2 separate regions of the Homo sapiens genome follow, and region 2 is linked to region 1. Evidence: fine-mapped expression QTL. A gene starts in region 1. The other region holds a variant in brackets. All regions are shown on one strand. Distances are from middle to middle.

Evidence for each region.
Region 2: its variant is fine-mapped to the expression of RFX2 in whole blood (TOPMed, PIP 0.95).

The regions. Positions count from the first base shown.
Region 1 is chr19:6,098,604-6,114,015 of GRCh38, reverse strand. RFX2 (regulatory factor X2) reads left to right here and starts at 3,516. Exons shown (of 18, transcript NM_000635.4): 1 at 3,516-3,623. RefSeq lists a silencer at 3,195-3,654 and an enhancer at 4,502-5,002.
Region 2 is chr19:6,051,892-6,067,303 of GRCh38, reverse strand. All of the region lies in intron 1 of RFX2 (regulatory factor X2), which reads left to right. It overlaps RFX2-AS1 (RFX2 antisense RNA 1), which reads right to left and starts at 4,706. Exons shown (of 2, transcript NR_199041.1): 1 at 4,536-4,706. RefSeq lists enhancers at 1,112-1,406, 921-1,422. The variant A/CA (reference allele first, on the strand shown) is at 7,343.

The sequences.
Region 1 (15,412 bases):
CGATACAGCAAGACTCCAGCTCAAAAACAAACAACAACAACAACAACAAAAGACACCCTCCATTGGTTTCCCAGTCTGATCGTGACTTCTTCCCTACGGCCTCCAATAAAATGATGGCCATCATATCATCCCCTGACTCACTCACCCCACCCACTCACTGCTCTTCCCCTTTCATTGGCTCCAGCTGTGCCCAAGGACCTGCTTTCTGTTTCTTCCACATCAGCTTTCACCCCAGGGATTTCGAATTCCAAACTATTTTCCTTTGTTCCTCGTTACTCCAACGTTGCCTCAAATGTCAGCTCCTTAGAGAGACCCAGGGTGACCAACTCTTCCCGCTTTGGGGATTTCCCGGTTTTAGCACTGAAATTCCCATATCCTGGGAAACCCCTTAGTCTTGGGCCAAGCAGGATTGTTGGATATCCCAGGGAGATCATCTCTGGCTGCTCTATCTAAGGTAAGCCCCACCCACCCACTTCTCCCACCAAGCCACTACTGTATCACTTTTCCTATGGCCATGGGAATTTTATCTATTTTATTTACACCTGTGTCCCTAGCACCTAGCAAATAGTAGGCGCTATCTATCTATCTATCTATCTATCTATCTATCTACCTATCTATCTATCATCATATACTATATATATACACACATATATGTGTGTGTATATATGTGTGTGTATATATATAAATGTATATATATATATATTAGAGACAGGTTCTTGCTCTGTCTACCAAGCTGGAGTTCAGAGGCACAGTCATAGCTCACCACAGCCTAGAACTCCTGGGCTCAAGCGATCCTCCCACCTCAGCCTCCTGAGCAGCTGGGACTATAGGTGTGCACCACTGCGCCTGGCTAATTTATTTTATTTTTATAGAGATAAGGTCTCACTATGTTGCCCAGGCTGGTCTTGAACCCCTGGCCTCAGACGATCCTCCTGCTGAGTCACTGCACTTGGACCTCAATAAATATTTTTGACTAAATTAATAATTGAATGAAAGGGACTGATTACTGTAGACCACTTGAGCTTAAGAATCTGTCACATGGCCAGGCGCAGTGGCTCCTGCCTGTAATCCCAGGACTTTGGGAGGCTGAGGCGGGTGGATCACTTGAGATCAGGAGTTTGAGACCAGCCTGGCCAACACGGTGAAACCCCGTCTCTACTAAAAATACAAAAATTAGCCAGGCGTGGTGGCGCGTGCCTGTAACGCCAGCTACTCGGGAGACTGAAACAGGAGAATCACTTGAACTCGGGAGGCGGAGGTTGCAGTGAGCCGAGATCATGCCACTGCACTCCAGCCTGGGCGACAGAGACTCTGTCTCAAGAAAAAAAAAAAAATTAGAAGATGATGAAATCAATTTAGCAAATCACCGTCAACATTTTAATTAAAATGAAACAGAACAGGAAATATCAGAGTGCGTTAAAGTATCATTTCACGGTACTTTAGTTACAGTATCATTTGTTTTAGTTATAGATATGTTTGTGTGGACTGAGCCCCTAGGTAAAATGTATTTCCTGCTGTATGCTGTGGTCAAAAATGTTTGAAAACCACCCATCTAGTGATCAAGAGCATGGACTTTGGCACTAGACTACTAGGGTTCCGATCCCTCACAAGCTGTTTGACACTGGGCAAATTCACTCATTCTTTCTGGGCCTCAGCTTCCTGATCTGAAAAATGGGGAAAGGCCGGGCATGGTGGCTCATGCCTGTAATCCTAGCACTTTGAGAGTCCAAGGCGGGCGGATCACTTGAGGTCAGGAGTTCCAGGCCAGCCTGGCCAACATGGTGAAACCCCGTCTCTACTAAAAATACAAAAATTAGCTGAGCGTGGTGGCGGGCGCCTGTAGTCCCAGCTACTTGAGAGGCTGAGGCAGGAGAATCACTTGAACCCGGGAGACAGAGGTTGCAGTGAGCGAGCCAGATCGCACCACTGCACTCCAGTCTGGGTGACAGAGAGAGACTCTGTCTCAAAAAAAAAAAAAGAAAAAACAAAACAAATAAAAACGGGGATAATGCCTAGCATCTTTCTAAAGATGCGATTGTAAGATTTAATGAGTTTGCATATTTAAAAAATGCTTAGATCACTTTCAGGCACATAGCAATTTAATCAGTGCTCACTAATATGATTTCTTGTTGAATGAATGAGTGGGGCTGAAGCCTAATCTCCTGCCTTTTCTCAGTACAAGTTGTTTTCTCCTATTCTTCCAGCCCCTTGTCTCGAATAACTATATGTTTACCTCTTTATTCTGTTTGCTGTCAATGTTCCCTCACTAGAATAAAAGTTCTATGAGGATCTGTCTGTTTCTGTCCTACTCGTAGCTGAATCTACCAGCTTGAGAGGAGGGCTGGTGAGTTTGGCAAACATTTTCTGTAAAGGACCGTATAGTAAATATCTTAGGCTTCGCGTGGGACATGCCGTCTTTGCGCAACTACTCCACTCCGCCCCTGTAGTGTCAAAGCAGCCTTCCAAGCTGTTCAAGGAAATGGGCGTGGCTATGTTCCAATAAAGCTTTATTTACAAACCCAAGCAGGCAGAATTTGACCCGCAGGCCGCAGTTTGCCAATCTTTAAACTAGTTCAAAATACTGGGCCCAATACAATAAAAGAGAGTCTCCTATCAGGTTCACACCCCACAAAAGCTCCTTTTGATAGTTTCTTTTTTTTTCTTTCTTTCTTTTTTTTTTTTTTGAGACGGAGTCTCGCTCTGTCGCCCAGGCTGGAGTGCAGTGGTGCGATCTCGGCTCACTGCAAGCTCCGCCTCCCAGGTTCGCACCATTCTCCTGCCTCAGCCTCCCAAGTAGCTGGGACTACAGGCGCCTGCCACCACGCCCGGCTAATTTTTTGTATTTTTAGTAGAGACGGGGTTTCACCGTGTTAGTCAGGATGGTCTCGATCTCCTGACTCCGTGATCCACCCGCCTTAGCCTCCCAAAGTGCTGGGATTACAGGCGTGAGCCACCGCGCCCGGCCGATAGTTTCTTTTAACCATGTAAAAAATATATATATATTTAAATTTTCAGCTGGGGGTCCGTGAAAAACAGGCGGCGAGCGAGAGTTTGCTGACCCCTGATCAGACTGTTCCCACATGTCCCACACTCCTCCTGTGGGGTAAACGGAGTCCCTTGGGTCCCCTAAAACTGGACTTTCCCAAAACGCGCCACCAACCCACGGCGCCGCGCGCGCGACCGGTTCGCCAACCCTCTGAGCCGCGCGCGCCTCCCGCCAAGACCCGCCCCTCTTCGCGGCCATTGGCCGAGTCTCGCACTCTTTTTCAAGGGGGAACGCCTCCTCCTTCCGACAGACTCTGCAGACAGCCAATGGAACGCCGTAGGGTCTCGCGCCCCGCCCTCTTGGGGGCCCGTTGGAGGCGAGCGTGGGCGGGCCGTTAGGAAGGTGGGGCGCGGAGCCTGGTAACCGTTGCCGGTAACAACGCCCCGCCCCGTCGGGCGGGCGGGCTGCGCGAGGCTGGCTGGCGGCGGGAGCCGGAGGAGGAGCGGCCGCCGCCGCCACCGCCGCCGCCATAGAGACTGTAGCCGTGGAGACTGTTACTTACCAACGGGGACCAACACGCAGCAGCCGCTGCCGCCGCCGCGGGAGCCGCTGCCCGAACTCCCGGCCCGAACTCCAGGTGACCGATGCGACCGCCCCGGGCCCAGCCCGGCCGGGGAGTGTGGGGGGCGGCGGGGACCCCGTTCGGGGGCCGGGGGGCGGGCAGCACGTCCCCGCCGCTCACCCCAAACGTCCGGGTGGTGCGCCCGCGGGACCCGCCTCCGCCACCCCGTCCGCGCGCGCGGCGGAGTTTGGGGGGACCCTGGCGACGTCCCCACTTTCCTTATTGACTGAACGCGGGGGAGGTGCGGTGCCGTCGCCTCACTTTTTACAAAACTTCCTGAGGTTGGGGCGTCCGGGGACCCCTTTCTCACGCTTACCTTCAAACTCGCTGAGTTGGGGGCGCCCCGGGAACGTCTCTCAAACTCCTCAAACTCCCTGAATTGGGGGCGCTTGGGGACCCTCTTCTCACCTTAACCCCCTAGATCTCTGAGTTGGGGGCACCCAAGGACCCCTCTTTTACTCATACCCTCGAATTTTCTGAATTGGGGGCGCCAGGGGACCCTCTTCTCACGTTTACTCCCCAGATCTCTGAGTTGGGGGCACCCAGGGACCCTTCTTTTACTCAAACCCTCGAATTCTCTGAATTGGGGGCGCTTGGGGACCCTCTCCTCACTTTTACTCCCCAGATCTCTGAGATGGGGACACCCGGGGACCCCTCTTTTACTCATACCCTCAAACTCCCTGAATTGGGGCCACCTGGGGCCCTCTTCTTACTTTACTCCCCAAACCTCCGAAATTGGGGTGACCCCAGAGCCCTTCTGTCACTCTTAGTCGCAAACTTCTTGCATCGGGGGGACCTCGAAGACTCCCTTCTCATTTTTACCCCAAATTCCTAGATCTGACTTGTCCCGGGGACCCCCTTTTTAATGGACTCCCAGACATACTGAATTTGGGGGCACCCCTGGAACCTTTTTCTCATTCCTTAACTAAAAGCTGGTGCGTCTGCCCTGGGGAGAACCCCTCTTGCCCTTCTCACCTTTTCATCCCAAACTCCCCGAGCGAGCTTCCCCGGGAACTGTTTCTCACCTTTTTGCCCCAAATCCTCGCGTTCAGGTCGCCTCGGACACCCCCTCCCCTTCTCCCTGTGACCCCATATTCCTGAGTATAGGGGTTCGTGCGTCCGCCAGTCTTTCCACGTGCCCCCAAGATGCCCCTCCGCACGTCCGCAGCTCTCCTCTTAGGACTGATCTGGAAGGGAGAAAAGTTTCACCAACGCGAGTGAAACTTTTTTTTTTTTTCAATTTATTTATTTTGTTAAAGAACCTAAACTGCTCCAGGCATTTTCTCCGAGGTAGTGCGAGTGCGTGTGTGTGTTTGTGGATTTAAACTCCACCCCCTGCCCCCACCGCCCACCAGCGCGCTCGCGGGCGCACACACACACTCACACACACACACTCACTCACACCCCAAATGCTCATTTCTTTCTTTTTCCTCCCTCCGAGAAGCCTCCGCGCTCCCTCGCCACCAGCCTCCGGCTCCGTTCCTTTTGGTTTTCCTCGCTGCACCGCTGGGAAAGTTGGATTTCCCGATCCTAGTGGCTATTTCAAGGGCCCCCGAGGGCCCCAAGCGCCCGGGCCATTCTGGCGGCTGCCGGCGCGGTTCATCTTCCTATTTTAACCTCCTGGTTGTGCGGCAAGAATGGGGAGGGGAGAGGGCAAGATGGAGCTCGGGACCCAGGGCTGGCTGCCTTACCCCCGCCCCCCCAGGCTTCATTCCTACTTTGGGGTGTTGTTAGCATTGTGCCTCCCTGCAATTATTTTCCTGCTTTGTATCATAAATGACCAGCGCAGGCTTCGATGAGTTCTTTTCCCTCTCAGTCAGCTTCATCTCTGTATCAAACCTTGTACAAGCTTCATTCTCTGTTTCAACTAAGAGTTCCCCAACAAAGTAACAGTAATAATAATAATGACACAAAACAACAAAGACTTTTTAAAAAAATTTTTGCCTGTACATATTGTTGACATGTATTTTATCTTTTTACATCGTGCCCTGAAACATTGTTTGCTTATGGAAAGATCCTTACCTCCCGTCCTTCTGGATAAGGAGGAGGGGGGCATCTGTGCTTTCTCCTGCTCTAGTTTAAAGACTTGAACTGACTCTAAAATAACCTTAGAAACGACAACTCACCTACTCTGACCAGAGAAGTAAGAGTTTATGGTAACCTCCCTAGGAAAAGAATTTAAGTTCTTGAATTACTAGGGCTTCTTCATCAACAGGCGTGGTACGGAAGGCAACTTATAATGTATGATGGGAAAGATCACTGTTCTGTGATTCTGTGACAGTTCAACGGACTTGGGTTGGGAATGAGTTCTGAAATAGTTTGCTCCTGCAGGAAAAGCAATACTGAAATATTTTAGTTTTTTAAGTTCTTTCTTATAAACCACTGAATCTGAGAAGAGAGAGACAGTTATTACCTCAATAACAGGACAAGTTCTTTGAAATCACTTGATCTTTGCTTTCTGCGTGAAGGGCACGCATTACCTTAATGTATGTGTGATGTATATTTAAATACAACAATATAATATAATGTGTATGTGATGTATATTTAAATGTAAATACTCATCTTTTAACATTGTTTATCATTGAAGTACTGCTAAGGATGGTTCTGTCCACCAGAAATGCAGGTGCTGGGGAATTGTTTATCTGGGTCTTATTCCTTAGATCTAATTGTTTAGTTTTACATTAGCATTATAATTAATAAAAATATTAAATTGGCTTAACTTTAATATTATAATCGAGTCAAAATTTTAAATGCACCTGTGGATTTTTTTTTTTTTTTTTTTTTTTTTTTTGAGACAGGGTCTCACTCTGTCACCCAGACTGGAGTGCAGTGGCAAGATCTCAGCTCACCTTAACATGCACCTCCCAGGCTCAAGGGATTCACCTGTCTCAGCCTCCTGAATAGCTGGGATTACAGGCATGCACCCCCACACCCGGCTAATTTTTGTATTTTTAGTAGGGATGGGGTTTCACTATGTTGGCCAGGCTAGTCTCAAACTCTTGACCTCAAATGATCCAACCGCCTTGGCCTCCCAAAGTGCTGGGATTACAGGCGTAAGCCACCAAACCCGGCCCCTGCACCTGTGGATTTTTGTTTGTTTGTTTGTTTGTTTGAGACAGAGTCTTGCTCTGTCTCCCAGGCTGGAGTGCAGTGGCACCATCTCGGCTCACTGCAAGCTCCACCCCCGAGGTTTACACCATTCTCCTGCCTCAGCCTCCCGAATAGCTGGGACTACAGGCGCCTGCCACCACGCCCGGCTAATTTTTCGTATTTTTTAGTAGAGACGGGGTTTCACTGTGTTAGCCAGGATGGTCTCGATCTCCTGACCATGTGATCCGCCCACCTTGGCCTCCCAAAGTGCTGGGATTATAGGCGTGAGCCACCGCGCCCGGCCGGCACCTGTGGATTTTTATAGTAGCTAGTGATTGTTTTGCTCATAAAATGCTGGGGCCAGAAGGAACCACATCTTATAATATATATTTGTTTCTAAAGTTGACATCTATTTATTAAATATTTAAATATTTTTAAAATATATATTGAAATATTAAAACATGTATATATAATATATACTTATATATTTAAATATAATAAAATTTAAATATAAATATATGTTAAATATAAAACAAATATATTTAAATATTTACAAACATTTAAACAGTATACCCCCATAGGTACCCACTTACTTGTAAAATAGGAAACTTTTGAAAAACCAAGGGAAGTTCTCATCTTGCTTGTCAGGACACTCACTAAACTGCAGGGGAGGAGAATGCGAGTCTGTGGGCCTGTCTCTGAAACTATGGGTCCAGGGCATTCCCACTAAACACAGCCGTATTTCTGAACTGAACTATATGAATATTCACCCGAAGTGGGGAAGAGAAGGACCATAAGTAACTTCATGTCAATTCAGGCCAGCTTTTGTCACCAAGTGAGTCCATGCCAAATTTACAAAAAAATTGCCAGTTTTCAGAGTTTCCTGGATTTCAGTATTGTTGTAAGGGGTTGTGGGCTTATGTATTTTTTAAAAAGATGTTTTGACTCCGTCTCTAGAATTTAAATGGCAATTAGCTCCTCTGCTGGTCATGTTCTCATGTTCTCTCATGTAGACATATGCCTGGTGTAGTGAAAGGTCTTATTTTGTTGGATGGATGGATGGATGGATGGATGGATGGATGGATGGGCAGGCCGATGGAATATACACTGGGAATTAGAGAAAAAACTGAAAACCACCTACTTGCTTCTTGGAAACTCTAAGATCAGCAAAAGGATTCTCCCAGGAAAAAAAATATAGGGGAAGACCCAGAATGAAGTGGGCGAAAGGGATAAGGGTAGGTGAAGGAGGAGTGGCAAAAGGTCCAGAGAGAGGCCCTAACAGGCCTATAGGGAACTGGAGCCTGGGAAGCTCTGGACTGGCTTAGGATTCTAAGCTCTTCTCTGCAGAAAACATCTATCCAGCTGCCTGCTGGGTACATCCAGGTGGATTCTGACAGGCACCTTAAACTTAAGGTGGCCAAGCTGAGCCTGTCATAGTCCCCCCAGATCTACTCCTCCCAAAGCACCCCCCAAACTCGTTGGTACATATCAACTCACTTCTTCCCATTACTCAGGCCAAACCTCAGGACTGTCCTTGACTCCTCTCTCCCAAGCCATCAGCAAATCCTGTTGACTCCACCTTCAGTAGTTCCCCAGAACCTGACCATGCCTCGCCACCTCCACTGCCAGCCCCTCTGGTCCCAGCCACCAGCATCTAGCCCGGATGATTCCACCACTGGTGCTCGGCAGTCTCTCAGCCCAGCAGCCAGACGGGGCCTGTTAACCCTGGGAGAGGCGGCGTCATGTTAAGTTCTACTTCATACCCCTCAGCTCGAAACCCTCCGATGGCTCCCATCTCATCTGCAGCAAAAGCCAAAGTCACCCCTAACTCCACTCCCCGCCAAGCCTAATACCTCTTTGACCTCATCGCCAAGCTAGATGCCTTCCCTCACTGCACTTCCACCCTGCTGGCCTCTGGAAGCTCATTCCAGCTCTGCCTGGAAAGCTCTTTGCCCAGGTATTTGGAGGGCTGGCTCTCCGACTTTCTTCAGGCCTTTTCTCAGATGTCACCAGGCCACCCACTTGAGAATGGGTGCTCTCAGCCTCCTTCCCTGCTTTCTCTGTCTCCTTAGCATTTATTCCTATATAACACACCATAAGTTATACGTATTTATTGTATTATCACTGTCCTCTTGTTAGAATGTCAGCTCAGTAAGGGCAGGAACTTCTGTTTTATTAACTTCTTTTTTTTTTTTTTTTGTGAGACGGAGTCTCACTCTGTCACCAGGCTGGAGTGTAGTGGTGCAATCTCGGCTCACTGCAACCTCTGACACCCAGGTTCAAGCAATTTTTCTGCCTCAGCCTCCTGAGTAGCTGGGATTACAGGCACGTGCCACAACGCTCAGCTAATTGTTGTATTTTTAGTAGAGACAGGGTTTCACCATGCTGGCCAAGATGGTCTCGATCTCCTGACCTCATGATCTGCCCACCTCGGCCTCCCAAAGTGCTGGGATTACAGGCATGAGCTGTTTTATTAACTTCTATATCCCCAGGGCTGAGAAGAATTTTGGTGCTGAGTAGGCAATTGAGAAATATTTGTGAAATGAATAAACAAATGGTTTCCTTGACACTTATGGGGAAAGCATATGTAGAAATGAAGAGTTGAGAGCTGCATTGGGTGTGGTGGCTCACACCTGCAATCTCAGCTACCTGGGAGGCTAGGGCAGGAGGATCGCTTGAACCCAGGAGTTTGAGACCAGCCTGGGCAACATAGCGACACCCTGCCCTTAAAAATTTTTTTTTTTTTTTTGAGATGGAGTCTCACTCTGTTGCCCAGGCTGGAGTGCAGTGGCACCATCTCAGCTCACTGCAAGCTCCACCTCCCAGGTTCAGGCCATTCTCCTGCCTCAGCCTCCCGAGTAGCTGGGACTACAGGCATCCACCACCACAACTGGCTAATTTTTTGTATTTTTAGTAGAGACGGGGTTTCACCGTGTTAGCCAGGATGGTCTCGATCTCCTGACCTCATGATCCGCCCACCTCAGCCTCCCAAAGTGCTGGGATTACAGGCGTGAACCACCGCACCCGGCCAAAAAAATTTTTTTTAAATTAAGAATTGCTCATAGGTACCTTAAGTTCATATTGCCATCTCTGAGTCAGTAGAGCCCAAATTGGATGAATCTGGATGAATGGGGCAGGGGAAAGAGGAAAGGAAAAGTTGCAGGTCATAGTGCTGGGTGTTGCAGACCAGGGCTTTGGGGCACAGCAGAGAAGGAGTTAAATTGTGGTGCCACCGTTTATTAGCTTAGTGGCTCTGGGGCAAGGTTTGACATCTGTGAAATCGATAATAATAGCTCGTGTGGTTGCTATATTAGAAATAATTTCTATAAGCTATTTAGCACAGGGGCTGGCATCTAATAGGTGCTCAGAAAAAAGTAACTGTTGTTATTATTATTATTATTAGGATGAAGCAAATAAGTAGTAAGTGGCCTGGGATGATCAGTTTTTTACTGTGGTTTCCTGACCAGGACCAAATGCTAAGGAGGCGTTTAGTACATACATCTTGCTTGACTGAGTGGTCGGCCTCATGCTGTCTGTTTTAGGGTAGGAAATTCCCTTAAATTAACCTAGAAACTCATGGGTACTAATATGTCCCTCTGCAAACATAAGTGCTTCGTAAGAACAAAAACAGCACGAAAAGTTGTTGGAGTCCTACATCTTGGTTGTGGCATGGGTCCCTCTGAAATGACTCCCCAAACATCACATTTATGATGAGTTTTGGGGAGTGGCCAGCTCTACAGATGAGAACATTTTAAGACTGGTTTCCCTTCTCTGTTATCACTGGCTCTTGGATGCCAACACAGTCAGAGTCTGGAAATGAGCCACTTGGAGCCGGGGACTGGCCTGGTCTTCGTGCCAGGACTTGAGTTGGGCCCTTAGGAGCAGACGGCCTGGCCTTGCTGCACCTCAGTTGTTTTTTCCTGAAAGTGCATTCCTGTTTTATGATACATAGGTCTTGCATGTTTGAAAACCCTGTTGTATGCCCTGGCAATTCCTTATTCTTATTTTTAATGTTTGTGAATTCCATGACTTTCTAAAAAGTACAGTTGACTTGCCACTGCCTGTAGATGATACATAAAGCAGATAGATTTTAAATGCTGTCAGTCCATTTACACCTGCTACAGTCCATGTTTCAAAGTGGAGAAAAAGCTGAAAAGCCATTAAAAATATGTAGAACTTACATGTAATGGTCCAATATAGTGATTATTTGTCATTTATTACATAATGAAGCCCAGATGTGCTATATATGGTAAGCCTATTTCTACTAAGATCTCTGCAGTTTTTTTGGACGTGTGTGCATGTGTTTGTGTATATGTCTGAGACTGGGGGATGGGTAATTCATAATAAAAAACGAGATGAAGTCTCGCTCTCTTGTCCAGGCTGGAGTGCAGCCTCAAACTCCTGGGCTCAAGCAATCCTCCTGCCTCAGCCTCTCAAGTAGCTGAGATTATAGATGTGAGCCACTGTGCCTGGCCATAAGAGGCTTCTTGTATTTGAACTTGGCTGAAAAATTGAACAGTAGAGACAAAAAAGCAAGGCCGTGTGATGCGGACTGGGCTCCTGGCGTCCAGCAGTTTTTAAGGAGGTGACAGTTGAGCTGAGACTGAAATGAGGAGAGGGAACCAGCGCTGTGGGGTTCAGAAGGAAGAGCCTTCCAGGAAGGGGGCAGCAGGTACAAAGGTCCTGCAGTTGTGTGGCTGATGCCTGGCGAGCAAAGCAAGGAGAGGCAGAAGAGGCAGGGGCAACCTGCAGGGCCTTGGAGGCCATGGGCAAAGTTTGGATGCTATTCGAAGTATAAACTGGATCATTGGTAGAGTTCACATCAGCCGGTACCTGTCAGATCAAAGGTGTCCAGTCATTTACCGGAAGACCTGCTTTTCAGACTCCTGACATTTGTTCATCATTCATTCATACAATCTTCATTCATTCATCCTTCATTCATTTATTCATTGCCTATTTTGAGTAAAGTGCTATCCTATCCAGTTACAAAGACCAAAGACCAACAAGGAAGAGGAGTCAGTATCAAATAGGCTTTGCTAGATGTTTCTACAGGGCACAGAGGGCAGACAAAGTGGGGAGGCCAGCTGTCCCTGGAGCTGAGGAAAGGTCTGAAAAGAGGATGTGGATCTGAACTGCATCTTGAGAATAGTGTTCTGCAGGCAGCAGATGGGGGAGAGGGGTGTGGCCATGTTTTCAGGACTGGGCGGCCCATGTTTTCATGTCCCCGTGAATGTGATGACTATACACTATATAAGTGGAATCATAGAGTATTTGTGTTTCCGTGACTGGATTATTTCACTTAGCACAATGTCTTCAAGGCTTATCCATGCTGTAGCATGCATCAGAATTTCCTTCCTTTTTAAGGCTAAAGAATATTCCATTGCATGGATATGCCACATTGTGTTTCCCCATTCATCCATGGATGAACACTTGGGTGGTTTCCACCTTACAGCTATTGTGAACCATGCTAAGCAGAGATCTCAAAGGGACTCTTAGGTAGAGGGAGAACCTGGACAGAGGCTCAAAAGGCAAAGGAGGAAATAACTTCAAGAACTGAGCACCATGAAGAGTGAGATCCAATGGCAACCAGAAAGATTAGACTTGCCCAAGTCCCATGTGAAAAAGGATTGGGTCCCCACAGAAAGGCAGAAGGCTTGACTCATGAACGCCTGTCTCCTGGAAAACTGTTGAAATTATACCAATGATATAGAAGTCCATTCCTAAAGCTGCAACAGCACTTAATTATACTTTTTTAAAAATGCAAACTGTTTATCTTTTAGAAACTGTGCCATGTTTCCAAGGATACATTTCTGTCCAAAAGGTGATCTGTGGGGAAAGGCCTTAGAAGCAGTTTCCAAAAAAATTACCAGCCCACAAAAATGTATGCGGGCTCCACCCAGGCCAGTGGAAACCCAAAGAAAATAACACGAAGGCCTTTTTCCCACCTCTCCTGTCCTTCTCAGAATACATACAGACAGATGTAGCCTGCCTTGAGAAAAAATATATTTGGAATTCCAGACCCACTGAAAACAGACTAAAAGATGTGCTTCTGATTTTAAAAGGAATTATTCGTTTTCTTGAAGAATTCACCCTACTAGGGACTTCAGTGAGGAGCTCTCTGGGGTCTCCATCCATTTCTTTAGAAAATATTTGTGGGCCTGAAATATCAAACATCTGAGGAGCTTATAATTAGTTAAGCATTTACGTGTATTAATATATCGTCATGTGGACAGTTGAGAGGGGAGAAGGCACTAGACAAATTTAAAATTGTTAGAAACCATTGGCAACTGATATTCAGAGCCTAAGTTAAAAGCAGGATATGTCTCAGGAGCAAATCTTTTGTGTAAATCCTGGTATTTTTACTGCAGACCTTTAAAATGACAGACGCGGGTGAGTAAAAATTACTTCTGGAAATGGATATGATTAATTAATTCAATTAATTAATTCAATTAAATCAATATAATTCAATTAATTAATTCAATTAAATCAATATAATTCAATTAATTGCCAGCCTTGGTTCACACTGATGAGTGTGCTCATTGGAGAGACTCAGCATGCAAAAGAAAAGACTCATCAATTTGCAGTTATTTAATTTCACGAACTGCCGGATGGTGGAGTCAGTAGCAGCGGCTGGGCCGCAACATGGCGCCTCCCACCTAGACTTCCGGTCAGGAAACTTCCACCTTCCTCCGATTTACGTGGGCCTGCATGAGCCTACTTCTCTTCTTATTCTAGTGCCAGTGGCCTCTGGAGTCTTGGTCCTTCTTACTGGAAGTAGCCCTCCTCTCCTGTTACAGAGGCAATAATTCTCCAGCCTTCCGGTCGCCGCCAAAGCCTCCTGCCTAATCACTTCCTGTATTGTCTCCCTGCGGCTCTTTGCACAGACCTTGGGCTCTGTCGTCTCTGGATTCTTACTGATCTCTTCCTCTTCTCCCAACCGCCTTGTCATGTCTCTTTGAGCTATGTCAGGAGGAACGGAAGGGCACTTTCTTACTACTTTTGTTAGCCAAACGGACAAACTGTCCCCTCCCCTTTGTTGTAACCACACATTCAAGGCTTCCTTCAGTCCAGCCCCATCTCCCTTTTCGTTGCCTCCCTTTCACTACTCCAAATGAGCTTGCCATACTTTAAACGGGTCTTGTACTTTCTTATCCCTTCTCTGGAATGTCATTTCTACTGAAGAAAATCCTACTCTTCCCTCAAGACCCTTCTTTAATCCCCTCTTGCCATGGAAACTTGAGATTTTCATTGAGGAGCTAAGTTGGAAAATATAAACTAGAGCTGAGTCTCTACCCTGGCACTATTGACATTTGGGGCCAGATTATTCTTGGTTGGGGAGACTGTTCTGTGCACTGTAGGATGTGGAGCAGCCTCCCAGGCCTCTACCTGCCAAAAGCACACTCCCCTTTCCCCAAGTGGTGACAACCAACTGTTTCCAGACATTGCCAGATGTCCTGAGGTGGGAGTGAGGGTGAACAGAATTGCCTCCCAGCTGGGGGCTGCTGGACTAATCAACAAGAAGTGGCAAGGACTGCAGGCAAATTGCCTCAGCACTTAGATTTAGCACTGCAAGGCCACTTCGACAGGTGGTAGTGATTTGTGCGTCTCATTTCCTATTCTTGATTGTGACAAGGTTCTGGAGGATGGAGACAGCTACCCCTGCCACAGTTCCCACAGGCTATGTTGTACATAGGGCTTCATATTTAACATGTGAGTGAATGAAACACATGAGCCCGAGTGCTCTTCAGGACGGCAAGGCCTACATCAAGATGGTAAACCTTCAGTTCTTAAAAAAAAAAAAATCACGCAGCCCGTGCCTGAGATCCAATAACCTTCAAACTCCATGTTTTCGATTTGATCTCAATTAACATTCCAGCTCTTTCAATATGTACTTTTCCTTTACCAAATTTCAAAAGAAATTTTAATCAAAGACCCCTACTGTTAATTAATTTCCCTTTTTACCCAGCCAAAATTGCAAATGAAGTTCTTTTTCCAGAAAGTTCGGGGAGCGGGGAGGGGTTTTATAACAGAGCTGCTGCTGAGTCTCATTGCTAGGAGCTGAGTACACAGTGGAGAATATGAAATCCCGAATTCTATGTCCCAGCCCATTGCAGTGGCTTGATTTGTCTCTTGTTTTGCTTTGGAACTTTTCAAAGATTTCACTCTGTTAAAAAGTCAATTTGGAACAAATATAGAGCTGTTATGTCTATTAGAATTGTTTCAGCAACGAAATGTGGCACTCAGCATTTGTTGAACCAATGAATTCTCCTTTTTGCTCTGAGGGAAAGCAAGGTTATAGGGCAAGTTGTATTTTAACCCTTAGCTTTTTTTTTTTTTTTTTTTTTTTTTTTTGTGGTTCAAGCAGTTTGTGAAAGATTTGAAAGCTGCATACATTTGGGGTCACCCCAAAAAGTCAGCCCTGGGCCACGAGCAGTGGCAGAGGAAGCAGTTACAGAGAATTAACAGAGTTACATAAAATTTACTCACTTTGTAGGCAAATATTTCTAACCTTGGCTCCCTTTCTTAAAGATCTATTTCCCCAGCTTTGTTCCCCAGCTCAAAAGCATTTCCCAACACGTGGATCTGCTACCACTGGATCTGCCAAAGCAGAATCCTCTTTTTTTTTTCCAGTTCTTTTTTAGGCCTTCCCAGTAGGCTGAGGAGAAAGTCTCTCGTGGGTGTTAAGGTATCTTTAACCCCTCTATAACACTCCT
Region 2 (15,412 bases), 47 kb after region 1:
CAAAAGTCGTTTTAATTTGGTATCAACTCCTCTGTTTTCACACTTTTTTCCAAATAGCTTAATCCATGATTCATTTTACTTCGCCCAGAAAACACTTGTGCAGCTATGAACTCTCCCACATTGTTTGTTTGATGATAAATAGATTCTTTCCTCTTGGAGAAAAGGGCACTTTCTCCTCCCAGTACTAGGAAGGATTGAAATCCCTCCTGTGATGCCCTCTTACCTCAGAGAGAGTTGTTCCTCCTTGGGTTTTGTTATTTCAGAACAAATATGGTAAACTGTTTTCCCCTCAGTTACTATAGAGAAGAGATTATTTGCCTTTCTCTTAGGGCTTCTGAAAATAATAGATTACATATTTGAGAGGGTTTTTTTTAGATCTGGTTAATGTGAGATAGAGGGGGTTGCTCCGGGATGACATTGTTTGGTTTGGGAAGTATTCTCCCGGTTGCCCAGCAACAGGCTCTTGGAAACGGGAGTGGACTGCGTTGCCCCTGGCAACCGTTGTTACTTAGCAAACAATGAGGGCCGGGCAAACAGTGCCAAGACTGCGGACTCCAGGTTTTAATTGAACATCTGCATATATTTTTCTCTGATTAAATTTGAGTTTGATTTGCCACAACAGGCAGACATGGATCCACTCGGGATCTGCTTGAAAGAACCAATATTGTAATGTTGACTCCCAGGCTGCACAAACGCAGAGGCCCCATTGAAACAAACTTCTGGCCATTCGAATATGTCCTAGACTGCTCTCAACTGGAGACTTATTTTAGTCTTAAGTGGAATTTCTTTTTTGATCTAATTCCTGGTGTTCAGAAAATCATTACTTGTCCAACCTACTACCGTACATCACTGATAAATCCGCAATTTCTGGAGCGCTTTTCAGCACGATGCCTTCATTTCTGCTGCCTAAGAATTTCAGAAGAGCAAAGAGTTGAGCCCTGGCTGGCTCACATGTAGAGACATTCACAGATAGGGTTGGCTGAGGGTGGAAATTGGACCCAGCACCTTCTGGTTTCATGTGCTCAATGTTCCTGTTAAGAAGTTGGGTCCACCCGTGGCCCTCAGTGGGATGTGTATGTTATGTTTATTAAGAGAGGTCGCACGTTCCCACTAACAAAGTGCCCTGTTGATGGGCACTTTGCAGCCACAGGTTGGATTTTGATCAAAACAGCCTCACTCCCCCACCTCCTCCGCTGGCAAGCCAGAGATAGCGATTGTTGACAAGGGTTTGTTGCTTAGGTAAACACCACCCCTGAACTTCATTCAGAGCGGGTGACACATTTCTTCCCCTCCTCCCAGCCCCGCCCCCAGCCCCCGCCCCCACTGCCAGGGCTATAAATTCAGAACTGTTAGCCAAGACAGGTTTTTGGTGAAGACTTTATTCTTCCTCATTCATCTCGAGTGCAATCTGACTAATGCAGCAACAGCCGCAAAAGTGCCGCCTGTAACAGACACTCCAGCCCCTCACTAAAACAGCTCCTGTGGTTCCCGTGGTGAGACTCGCTTTAGTTGTATGGATTTTTTTTAAGGACGATTCACTTTGTTGCTGAATGCCCCCAAGAAAATGTTCATTGCACGTTTGTTACCGGCATTTCAGCTAATCTTAGGACTATTTAAAGTATCTAAACAAATTTCCCAACTTTCTTTTGCAGCAGAAACTTATAATGGAATGTCATTTGTGTTTTTTTTGGAGACAGAGTCTCGTTCTGTCGCCCAGGAAGCTCCGCCTCCCGGGTTCACGCCATTCTTCCGCCTCAGCCTCCCGAGTAGCTGGGACTACAGGCGCCCGCCACCGCACCCGGCTAATTTTTTTGTATTTGTAGTAGAGACGGGGTTTCACCGTGTTAGCCAGGATGGTCTCGATCTTCTGACCTCATGATCCACCTGCCTCGGCCTCCCAAAGTGCTGGGATTACAGGCATAAGCCACCGTGCCCGGCCTTTTTTTCTTAAAAAGGCAAGCTGATTAGCCATCAGCCTTATTAGATGTGATAATTAGGATCCAATGGCTGCGAGTGTTGTTGGAATGAAAATGAATAAGGTCTGACTTACACAAAGACTCCCCCAAAGATTAAAATACATTATTTGTCCTGCAACCTGTTGTAGGATAGTGGTAGAAGACCACTATATACTTAAAAAGATAAATCCTCCCAAAGAAATGCTGTTCTACCTTCTACAATATTATTTTCTGCCCAGTCCCCAGTTTAAGTAAGTCATTTTTCAGGAATTAGAGCCTCATTTAAAATTTTTTTTAAATTTATCATTTTCTTATTTCCCATGGAAGTATTTTCCCATATATCAGGCTTTGCAATTTGGGCAAACCACTTAACATCTTTAGGTAAGTTTCTTCATCTGTTTGATGAAAGAGCTGGGTTAGGTGGTTTTTAAAGGGGCCTCTCCATGCTGTGGTTTTAGATGGAAATTCTTGAATTTGAACTAGGCTCTTTCTCCGCTTCTTAAATTCCAGAATCAAATCACGACTGGAGGGGAGGTAGGAGGTAGATTGAAAAGGTCCCCTATGTGATGTTGGTGGGATCCAGAAAGCCAGCCTCCTCCTGGCCAGAATCAGTCATGGAGATGTGGAAAGAACATGCACTGCCTGTTGCCCTGCCCTCACTGGCTGTCTCTAGAGATGGCTGTCAGGAGGAAGGGTCACACAGGCAGGACGAGACCCCATCCCCAGGTGGGCACAGGTGCCCAGTGGGCGTGCTGCCGGGTCAGGTCACCAGGCTGAGAAAGCAGGAGATGCTACTGCTGAGGAACTGTCACTTGTCATTTCAAGGTCCACTCCTCCACCCTCTGGCAGCATGAGTCGCTCTGAAAGATTTTGAAGCTGGGACAGGAGAGGGTGAGTGAGGTGAGGCCTCCGCATGCCAGGTTTTCACTGGCACATTCCCCATCTTCATCTTGACCATCAGCAGCTGCACTGCAGCCCTGCTCATGGTCAGAAAGGGAGAGAAACGTGAGAGGGAAAGAAAGGCTGGTAAGAGAAGGAGAACACAAAAGCATGATGCCTTAGGAAGCCGCTTCCAAGAATCCTGGGACAGGCCCCTGTGCTCAGCTGAAGACGGGAGCTGGAGGCCAACATGGTGAAGGTGGCTAGAACAGGTGAGCAGCCCGGAGCAGGCGGGCTGCTCATTCTCTTGTTCATTGCAAAACACGTCTTGAGCATCTTTGCAGGCAATGTGCTACGTAGGGTCTGGGGTTGGGGTGAGGGATCTGTGAGGGGGCTGCTGAGATGACATAGATCCAGACTTTGTTTTCTCAAGAAGGGCTGGCTGGCCAAGAAGCCAGATGTGAACAGCTGCATGACATGAAGTAATCTGAGGGGACAAGCACGGAGAGTGGTTTGGTGAATCTGGAAATGCTGTGTGGAGTAAAGGTGTGGCCTTAGACGTGTGGTTCTCCATGGGGGTGGTCCTGCCCCCAGGGGACACTGGGCGATGTCTGGAGACATTTGTGGCTGTCAGACAGGGGTCGGGGGGTTTCCTGGCATGGAGTGGGTGGAGGCCAGGGATGCTGCCCAGCACCCTGCGGTGCCCAGGACGGCCCCACCCCAGAGTGTATTCCTGCCCCTCATATCCGCATTGCTGAGGTCAGGAAAGCCTGTATGACATGACAAGCTGACTGGAGAGAGGGTTTCCCCACTGCTCATCACTTGCCTGGGATCCCCTTTGGAGCTGCTGGCTGCTGTCTCTCTGCCTCCCTCCTTCTTCAACGCAGCAGTCACTTTAATCTTAGCTGTCATGGGCGGGTGGACTTTGAGGGACAGAGGGCTGCCCAGCCTGCCTGGCCCTGCTGGAGGGGTCTTGTCCATCCCCACCCTGGCAGGTGCATGGACCCCATCCTCACCCTCCCTGCGTTGTGTGCAGGAGACACCAGTGCCAGCCTCCGGTGGCCCTCCATGCACTGCAGCCACCTTGTCACTGCGAGTCTGGACCGCTGTGTGCCATGCTGGCCTCCCTCGATTCTGCAGACCTTAGACTTGCAGGCAGAGGCTAGCTGATCAGTGAAGGGCTGGCGCTCAGGCCTGGGGGTCTGGCAGGCGTAGGCTCCAATTCCGTTGGAATCAGAGGGTCCTTGGGGGTTGTGTGGACATCTCATTTAAACACTCCATCCGGAATCAGAGGAAGCCCGGCTTTCCCCACAGAGCAGGCGCCAGGGGAGAGTTTCAAACCAAGTAGCTGGATGCATGAGGGAGAAGGCGGCCTAGGAGCAAGAGCGAGAGCGGCAGGACAGGAGGGATACGAGACACAGCAGCTCACGGGAGGGGATGTGGGTGACCCCAGCAAGGGCCAGGCACCAGAAAAGGACAGACAGGTGACATTGGTCTCTGGAAGGGGAGGGAAAGGACGAGCAGATATTGAATATGCGCGACTGGCCAGGGAGCGACCCCCAGATCTTTACATTCTGAAAAACCCACTGCTTTAAACGCACAGGGAACTGCTTGTGGGGATAGACAGAGGGAACGATCATTCTAAGTCACGCTGATTTACCTTTTCCTCCTGGTTACTGAGAATGAATGAAGAGCACTTACTTCTCAACTGGAACCACAGAGGGCTGGAGAAATGTCCAAGTCCAGTTCGAGCTCATACAGTCACTCCCCACGGGGACTGTATCAGTTCATGATAGCTCCAATAGCATCAACTAAATTCTAGAAACTTCTAAAGCAAAAGCTAAGCTTGTGTTGTTATTTGGAGTTCTCTTTGGCATGGGGTTGGGGAAGCGATTTATATACAGAAAAGAGACGGAAGCTCCACGTAGGTCGGGAAGCTGTGGCTCCGGAGGCTCTAGTCATAAAAACATGTGCTTCCTCCTCCTAAAGGAGTGACTTAGCCAAACCCAAGCCAAAGCCAGTTCCAGTCTAGCCTGCCTCTTCCTGCTTTGTGACCTTCAGCTCATGGCTCGCCCTTTCTGAGCCTCAGTTGCGTGTGTGTTGTGTCTAGAGCAGAGGTGATGTGGTCACGGCTTCCTCAGAGTCAGTCAGCCCCCACGTATACCAGCTTTGCCCGCAGTCTGGGGCTCGGTCTGGCCACCAGCTACTGCCGCTGCTGTTGTCCTTGGGGTTGTGTCCCTCTTTCTTTCGGCTAGTTTGGTTTTTTGGTTGTTTTTCATTGTTTTGTTTTGTTACTTGTTTATTCTTTTTAGAGACAGGGTCTTCCTCTGTCTCCCAGGCTGGAGTGCAGTAGTGCAGTCAGCTTACTTCAACCTCAAATTCCTGACCTCAATAATCCTCTGGCCTCAACCTCCCAAAGTGCTGGAATTACAGACATCAGCCACCTTCCCCGGCCCCCAGTTTGTTGTTGTTGTTGTTTGTTTGTTTGTTTGTAGAGATGGGGCCTCGCTATGTTGCCCAGGCTGGTCTCGAACTCCTGGGTTCAATGGATCCTCCCGCCCCTGCCTAGGACATATTTCATTGATCAGGCACCTGCTGGGATCCACACTCGGGGTGGGCACATCAGCTATATCATTCCCTTCCCCCTCCCAGCCCCTTTCTCAGATGAAGAAACCAAGGCCACTGCCACAGTCAGTAAGCGAGTGACAAGCCTGGGACTTGAACCTGAAGCCTGGCCTCCTCCCTCTGCTCCGGGTGGTCATACCTCCTTCCCAGCCACTCGGCATTCCCCTTGGCATTTGTTCTTATTTATATAAATAATGGAGGTTGCAAAGTCTTTTTCCCCCGGCTGCAGCCGACTCCCCAGTAAGATCCAGAGGCGGGGCCGGGAGTAGGAAGGGAACCAAATGTTCCGTTTCTTTGGATGCATTCTGTGGGGCAGGGCTCTCTGCCTGCCTACGGACAGTCTTCAGGTGACAAGGTCTTGATCAGCCAGACTTGTAAGTGTGAAGGGTAGGCTCCAACCCTCTAAAGAAGGGATCCTACAGACAGCAGACCTTTTCGACATCGAAATGGTCTGGAACCCCCACCTTGGTAGTTAATCCCTTGATTTAGCACACACACTGTCTATGCGGTGAAAATTCTTGGGAGGATTTTTTGAGCCAGGGAATGAGAAGACATTGTTATCTTTTGAATCACCCCAATGTGAAAGAAAATTGGCTGGGAGAGGGCAGAGGCTGGAAGCAGGGAGACCAATTAGGAGGCGGATGTGGTGGTTCCAGGTAGGAGATAGGGAGGCAGGGGCTCACTGAAATAGTAGCAGCAGGAGCGGAAGGAAGGGGGAGGCAGAGATGGTATCAGGTGGAGACAGCAGGCTGAGTCACCAGCGACACGTGTCCCGGGGCGCAGGGAGATGCCCAGTGCCTTGAACAGCCCCCTGGCTTAGGAAACGCAAGAGGAGCAATTTTGGCGGGGGGAGAGTTTCCCTTGGACTTGTTGAGGCACCTGAGGGGCGCCCAGGCAGAGAGGTCTGGGAGGCAGCTGGAGAAGGGAGCCGGAGTCAGGTGATTTGGGTGGTGCTGGGAGTCCTGGTGCCGGGAGGTCGTCCACATTGAGTGTGACAGGGGAGGGGCACAAGGGTGGAGGCCGAGGGTGGGAGACAAGCAGGGACCAGTGCAGGGGACTGAGAAGGTATCATTAGGGGGAAAAATGAAACCAGATGACAACAGCACCCAGACACGAGGGAGGACAGAGCTTCGAGGAGCGACACGAAACACTGCAGAGAGTACAAGTTCAGAGGAGGCCCGAAAACTGCCCCGTGAGGACCTCAAGAAGAACAGTGGGCAGACATGAGAATGCAGAGAGAAGACGACAGAGGCTCCCTCCTGAGAGTCTGGACTTACAAATAAAAAAGAATCCATATCTCAAGAGAAGATAAAGGATAAAGAGCAGGGTTTCAGTGGCAGTGGATGTTCTCCTCAAATGGGTGTGATGTGAGCTTGTCTATAAGCTGAAAGAATGGAGCCTGTGCAGAAGCCAGATTGCAGGCTTGATCGGTGGGTCCTTGGAGGGAGACGGAAGGCTCTAGAACCTTCAGGAAGGGGGCCAGCAGCCTTTTCCTGTAAAGGACCAGAGAGTACATATTTTAGGCTTCTGCTGGGGTCTGTCTCAGCTCCTCGCCTCTGCTGTTGGAGCACAAAAGCCATCATAGATAATGGGAAAATGGGAGTTGAAGATGCAAGGAACTGGATGTAGACAGTCTGGATGTGAGATAGTGGGGGGAGGTCAGCACAGGGAAGGAGTTGTGGGGTAGAAGGAAGTGGAAGAGACAGCATGGCAGGGGCATGGCTGAGAGCCAGGAGGTGCAGAGGCGGTGTCAGAAAAGGGGGACAAAAGAGTTGCAATTTTAGAATGGAATCTTGCAAGGAGAAAAGTACAGAGAAAAAAATGTACTTTGAGGCTTTCTCCCAAAGGCATGTGTGTGGATGTGTGAACACAGGCTCCCCCCC[A/CA]TCACTTTTTACTACAAGAATCGTTGTTTTTGTCTAGTGGGAGGAGTCAACATTCAATTTAATAGAAAAATGTATGGAGTAAGAAAATGACGTGTCTTCTGAGTGGTTTTGGCCATTCTTCTCATATTATCCTGCGTCAGGTGGTGTATGTGTGTGCATGTATGTGTGTCTGCATGTGTACTTTTGTGTATACATGTATGTACATGTGTTTGTGTGTGTGTGTTTGTGTATATGTGTATGTCCATGTATATTTGTGTATATGCATACGTGGGGAGTGTATACATGCGTCTGTGTGTGTGTGACACTCTCATGTCCACTCCTGGGGGACAGATATCCACTCCTGGGGGACAGAGCACCAGCTGCTGCTCGGCCTCTAGCTTGGTATCCAGTTACCTTTCACTCCAATGTGTTGGACTTTAGGGCACCCCATAACCTAAGGAGAATTTCCATTTCCTAGAAACCAAGTTTTGTGGTGTTGAAGTTATTGCTAGAAGCAGTGGAATCAGGTTGCCTGCCAAAAGAGTATTTGCTGGGTGAAAGTGTCATGAAGACTTGGTGGTTTTTTAATTCAAAATTCACCCTGAATTTGGTATATTATTGATGGCAGTTAAAATCAGACCACATCAGAGATGAGGTAACCATACTTTAGTTTGGACAATTTTTATATTAATAGTCAAATCAAGGCCAGGCGTGATGGCTCACACCTGTAATCCCAGCACTTTGGGAGGCCGAGGTGGGAGGATTGCTTCAGTCCAGGAGTTCGAGATCATTCTGGGCAACATAGCAAGACCCCTGTCTCTACAAAAAATTAAAAATTAGCCGGGCGTGCTGGTGCTCACCTATAGTTCCAGCTACTCGGTTGGCTAAGGCGGGAGGGTCACTTGAGCCAGGGAGGTCGAGGCTGTAGTGAACTATGATCGCATCACTGCACTCTAGTCTGGGTGACAGAGCAAGACTCTGTCTGAAAAAAAAAAAAGTCAGGTTTCTAAAGGGGAAGGAACGGGTGTTTCCACTGTTAAGACGGGGGTCCCTGGCTTAGGGGAGGCCTTGTCAGCGCAGCCTGCTCTCAGCCTCTGAAGATTAGAACCTGCGACTTAAGGGCCTACTGGGTGTCTGCACTCCCCCATCCCCCTTCCAGTCTGCAAACAGCCCTTTCTCAGGCCAGTTGTCAAGGGCTTGGTTCTGATCCTTTTCTAGAGAAAGGAGGGAAAGTTTGGCTCCTGAGAAGAAAACAGGAACAGAAGCCCAATTCTTACGAAAAGAAAAAGGAATTTGAATTCTGAAGATACTTGATTTCAGAGAAGCTCGGAGCCAGCTCCAGTCCTTGAAAGCCCATTGCTACAAGAGGAGAAAAAAAAAAAACCCAAAAGTGAGGAATGACGGGCACCCCCGTGGCTTAGGCACGGAGGGAACGATGGTTGCCCTTGGTGTGCATTGAAGCCTGCTGCTCTGGAATGTGTGGGTAGCCTTCAGAGGGTCCTGTTCATTTATTTCACACTCCTTGCCTGGCTGAATTGTCATGATTTTGCATCCTGCCTACTCTCCTTTTTCATCTTCCTGTTCTCACCCTGTCTACAGGCCTGTTTTACTCGGGGGCTGTTTGTCCAGACCCCTTCTTAGACATCACAAATCCATTTTGAACAGAGGTCCTTCTGCGCCCCAGGGGACACTGGGCAATGTCTGGGAACATCTGTGGTTGTCACAACTGGGGGTGCTCTTGGCATGGAGTGAGCGGAGGCCAGGGATGCTGCTCAGCACCCTGCAGTGCTCAGGACGGCCCCAGCCCAGAGATGGATCCGTCCCCAATGTCCACAGTGCCAAGTGGGGACACACACTGTCATCTTTGGTGATTATCAGGGCAGAGTAATAACTCTTGGCACTGAGAACCAACTGGGTCCACAGGGAGTAATCCTGGTGCCAGAAAGGACATGGTTCCACCATCAAGGAGGGTTCGAGAATCCACTTTTCGGCAAGGAGATGGCTTGGAGGTGTCCTCCCTGTGCGTGGGGCCAGGCCACACAAGCCTGAACAGTGAGGACAGAATCTTAAAACACGCATCACTTACTCCGAGGACCTGGCCCTCAGAGGGGAGCCGGGAGAAGGAAACGGACAAGACTTTTCTGGGCAGCCTAATGACACTGGGAGTGTTAAGACAAGCTACCAGGACAGAATCTGGGCTTTGAAGCAACTGGTACTCCTGAGAGCACTCCGGGCTTGTTCCTTCTTGTTCAGAGGGAGGAAATTAATTGCTTTCTTAGGGCAGATGAACTCTGGTACCATCTGGAGGCCAGCGAGTACCAGGAGAGGAGGAGCTGATGGCCGGAGGAGGCCACGTGCCTCCCAAACACCGAGGCTCATCAGCCAATCAGAATGAAGGTAACTAAAACCACTCAGCTAACTCTGCCCCAATTATCACCAAAGATGACAAAACATTGTCTAAATACTGATCTGAACTATGTGAGGCAGGTGACAGCTCCATTTGGCATATGGAGGAACAGGAATAGAAGAGAGATTGCTTAAGGTCGCAGTGAGTCAGCGGCTCAGCCAGGAACGGGCCCAGAAATTGCTCTCAGCGTTTTCTGCATTTCCTTTCCTGACATTGCTGGTTACTAGGTGATGGGAGTATTTTTCTGTAAACAGAAGCCTCTTCCCTTTGTGCCCAGGCAGATTCATTCATCACGGCCGTAGTCCAGGGCTGCTTCTAGCTGCGTCTCTCCTGTGCCCCCTCACATGAAGTCAGGAAGCCACGGGAGATGTTCCCACTGGCGCGTTTGACTCAGCAGTGGCTCCAAAAGGTCAAGTGCGCATCTGGTTCACTTGAATGTTCGTTCAAGGTCAAATGAGCGTTTCGTGGATTCCAAAGGCTGGTGCCGGCCAAGGAGGGGAAATTGCGCCGCTGGTTCTGTGCTTTTCCCCTTTATTTCATGCCCGCCCTGATCTTGGACCAGATGGTAAATGAAACGTGCTCAGCTTATAAACAGCACTCCGGGCATATTTCTGAGGCACGAGGGAGGGAGCTTTGGGCCAGCCAAGCCCGTTGGCCAGGCAGGGCCAGGCTGGGTGACAGGTCGTGTTGCGGCCCCTCCCCTTTATATTGGCTGTTCCGAGGCTCCTGTAACCCAGTCTAAGAGGACACAGGGGAAGGCAGTCAAAGTAAGACTGCCCAGGTCCTCGCCACAGGAAGAAAAACAGAAGAGAGGACAAAGGAACGCGAGAAAGCAAGGACGGCAGGGCAGTCACTGAATGGGTCCAAGTTCCCACAGCAGATTCAGGTTCAGAGAAGAAGCATGGCCTCCACTCACTCACATCTACTGTCTTGCACTGGATTGAGGGGTTCCCAAACTGGGTGCTGCAAAGGTGCTCCACAGTGTGCGTCCCTGTGCCCTGTGGACTTTACCTTGAGTACACCCACGCCCTCGGGGCCCTGCCCTCTGCCCACTCTCTGCTGCGCTCTCCTCTGCCAGGTGGAGGAGTTACTCAGGATCCAGCATCACCCCTTCTGGGAGGACCATGTGAGCTACTGCGCTTACCTGGAAGCACCGCCAGGATCATGAGCCACTCCTGCTCATCGCTGGTGTCTTGTGTGTGTGTTTGTTTAACTCCTTATCATGGAAATTTCAAACATCCACAAAGTAAATACACAATGCAATGAAACTTATGAAGCCACCACCCTCTACAGGGTGTCAGGGTCCTGCCATTCTTATAACACCTGGATACCTGTACCCACTCTCCGTCCTCCTCTCCACCCTTGTATTTTTACAGGCTTCGTTGTCATTGTTAAAATTCACATACAGTAAGTGCACAAACCTTAGCTGGCTAATTTTGACAAATCACGACTCCATGTAACCGCACACTGTATTATCATACAGAATGCGTCCATCTCACTGGAGTGTCCCCTCCTGTCCCTTTCCAGTCACTCTCGCCCACCGCCACCTGCCCCCCCACCCACTATTATGATTTTTTTTTAACTTTAGTTTTAATCCACTCTACTCATCTACTCTTTTGGACTCAACTTCTTTCACTCAGCGTAATGATTTTGAGATTCATCCATGCATTGTGAATTTCAGTAATTAATTCCTTTCTATTCATGAAGAGTATTCCAGTAGTATTCCTCTATTAGCTTTTTAGCTATGCTCTTCTTTTCCATTTTTAGTGGTTGTTTTAGGGTTTTCAATATGAATCTTTAAATCATCATAATCTGCAATTTCTCGTCCACTCTCCTGATGAGGAACATTTGGGTTATTTTTACTTTTTGGTGACTGAATCAAACTGCTATGAATAAGGCTGAGGTGGGCAGATCATTTGAGCCCAGGAGTTTGAGACCAGCCTGGGCAACATGGTGAAACCCTGTCTCTACCCAAAATACAAAAATTAGCCGGGTATGGTGCTGCGTGCCTGTAGTCCCAGCTACTTAGGAGGCTGAAGTGGGAGAATCGCTTGAGCCTGGGAGGTTGAGGATGCAGTGAGCTGTGATTGTGCCACTGTACTTTATCCTGAGGGAGACCCTGTCTCAAAAACAAAAAACAAAAACCAACAAACAAAAAGCTGCTATGAACATGCTTATACAAGTTGTTATTATTTTTTTGAAGAGATATGTCTTCATGTCTCTTGGATAAAAACTACAAGAGGAATTCTGGGTTAAAGGGCAGGTTTAACTTTCTAGAAAACTGCCAAACCTCTTTCCAGTGTGGTCATATCATTCATATCTACACATGGGGGTGTGTGAGAGTTTTAGTTGCTCCATGTACTTACAACATTGGATGTTGTCAGACTTGTCAGGTTTAGCCATTCTAGTGAGTATTTAGTGATATCTTGATATAGTTTGAATTTGCATTTCCCTAGTGACTAATGAGGCTGACCACTATTCATGTACTTTTGGGCATCTGTATATCTTGCTTTGTGAAGTACCATTTTTTTAAGTTATTTGTCATCTTATATTGAATTGTAGGAGTTTATATATATAGATATAGATGTAGATATATTAGGATCAAAGCCCTTTATGAGATACATGTTTTGCAAATATTTCTCCCAGGCTGTGGCTTACCTATTCATATTCTTAGCAAAATCTTTTAATGAGCAGAGGTTTTAAATTTTGGTGAAATCTAATTTCTCAAGTTTTTCTTTTATGCTGATTTGTGCATTCTAAGAAACCTTTGTCTAACCTCCTATGTTCTCTCTGAGAAGTCTTATAGTTTTAGCTTTTGTGTGTAAGTAAGTTCATGTTCTAACTTGAAATCATTTTTATGTATGGTGTGAGGTAGGGGTCAAGGTTCATTTATTTTCCCCAATATGGATATTCTGTTGATCCATCACCATTTGTTTAAAAGACTTCTTTCTCTGTTGAATTGCCTTGACACCTTTGTGAAAATCCAGTTGAGGAAGAAAAGAGCTGAGGCTCCATTAGAAAAAAAAATCAATTGATAATCTAAGTGTGGGTTATATTATTTATATATTGTTGAATTTGATTTATTAATATTTTAAATTATTTTTGCATATATGTGCATAAGAGATATTAGTCTAAACACTTTCCTTGTAATATATTTGTTAAGTTTTGGTGTCAGGGTTTACTGACCTCATAAAATGAGTTGTGAAGTATTCTTTTTTTATTTTCTGATGGCATTTGTGTAATAATTCCTTTTTCAGTATTTGATAGCATTCACCAGTAAAACTATATGTGCCTGAAGTTTTCTGTGTAGGGAAGTTTCCAATAACATATTCAATTTTTTTGTTATATGTATTACATTCACATTTTTTTATTTCATCTGTGTCAGTTTTGTTATGTTGTGTTTTTAAAAAAGTGTTCATTTTATATGTTATTGAATTTATGGGCTAAAGTTGTTTGTAATAGTTCTCTATTATCATTTTGATTTCTGTAGAATCTCTAGTGATATATTTCATTTCATTCCTGATATTGGCAATTTGGGTTTTCTTTTCTTATCAGTCTTTCCAGGAGAAGTTGTTAATTAACTTTTTTTAAATACTTGCTTTTTTTTTTTTTTTTTTTTTGAGATAGAGTCTTGCTCTGTCACCCAGGCTGGAGTGCAGTAGTGCAATCTCAGCTCACTGCAACCTCTGCCTCCTTGGTTCAAGCAATTCTCCCACCTCAGCCTCCTGAGTAGCTGGAATTACAGGTGCCCGCCATTACACATGGCTCATTTTTGTGTTTTTAGTAGAGACAGAGTTTCACCATGTTGGCCAGGCTGGTCTCAAACTCCTGACCTCAGGTGATCCACCCGCCCTCGGCCTCCCAAAGTGCTGGGATTACAGGCATGAGCCACCATGCCTGGCCAAGACTTGCTTTTTTAAAGAGCAGTTTTAGGTTCACAGCAAAATTGACAGGAAAATACAGAGATTTCCCATATACCCCATACCTCCACACATGCACAGCTTCCCTCATTATCACCATCACCCACCAGAGTTGTACATTTGTTACAGTTGATGAAATCTGCATTAACACAGCATTTTCACCCAAAGTCCATAGTTTCCTCGAGAGTTCACTGTTGGTGTTGTACATTCTATGGTTTGGACAAATGTATAATGACATGTGTCCACCATTATAGTGCCATACAGAACAGTTCCAGTGTCCTAAAAATCCTCTGTGCTTTGCCTACTCATCCCTCTCTCTGATACCTGGCAACCACTGATCTTTTCATTGTCTTCATAGTTTTGCCTTTTCCAAAATGTTGTTTAATTAGAATCATACAGTATGTAGCCTTTTCAGACTGGCTTCTTTCACTTCATAGTATGTGTTTAAATTTCTTCCATGTCTTTTCATGGCTTGATAGCTCCTTTCTTCTTCTGAAAAAATTTCAGTTTTGAAGAAATATTGCTTTTGTTCATTTTCTCCATTGTTTGTGGAGTTTCTAATTTCATTAATTTTGTTCTTTATTGTTTTTCCTTCTTTCTATTAAGTTTAGTTTGTTTGTCTTTCTATATAGCTTTTTAAGGTTGAAAACGTTCTTAAATCTTTCTAACATAAGCATATAAAGCTAAACATCTCTTTCTAAGCACTGCTTTAGGTGTGCCCACTTTTTTTTCTTAATAATTTTACTTCTTTTTTTCACCCACAATATTTGTACCAGTGCCCACAAATTTTGATACAAAGTGTTTACATTATAATTCAGTTCAAAATATTTTCTATTTTTCTTTGGGGTTTATTATTTGACCCATGGATTATTTTGAAGGTGTATTTTAAGTTTTCTAAATATTTGGCATTTTTCTAACCTTCTTACTGATTTCTAATTTACTCCACTGTGGTCAAAGTGCATACATGCTCTGTATAATTATGGTATTTTGAAATGTATTGAGGCTTATTTTATGGCCCAGAACATGACCCATCACAGTGAATATTCCATGTGCATTTGAAAAGAATGTGCAGGTTTTGATTGTAGTGTTCTCTAAATGTCAATTACATCAATGTGGTTGATAATATAATTCAGATATTCTGTATCCTTAGTAATATTTCTGCTTAGTTCTTCTAATTTTGATTCAGTAATCAAAATTACTGAATGAAGGATGTTTAAAATCTCCGATTATGATTGTTTATTTCCTCCTTTAGTTTTGTTAATTTTTACTTTACGTATCTTGAAGCTGTATTACTAGGTACATACATATCTGTAATCAATATGTCATACTGATAAATTGATCATCTTATGATGAAATTTTATCTGCAGTAATATTCCTTGTCTTGTCAATGTCTCTAGTATTGCTAGTAATATTTCTCATCTCAGAGTCTATTTTGTCTGATTATTACAGCCGCTCCAGCTTTCTTAAGATCAGAGTTTGCAGGCTGAGTGTGGCGCTCACACCTGTAATCCCAGCACTTTGGGAGGCCGAGGTGGGTGGATCAAGAGGTCAGGAGATGGAGACCATCCTGGCTAACAAGGTGAAACCCCGTCTCTACTAAAAATACAAATATTAGCCTGGTGTGATGGCGGGCACCTGTAGTCCCAGCTACTCGGGAGGCTGAGGCAGGAGAATGGCGTGAACCTGGGAGGTGGAGCTTGCAGTGAGCTGAGACTGTGGCACTGCACTCCAGCCTGGGCAACAGAGCGAGACTCCATCTCAAAA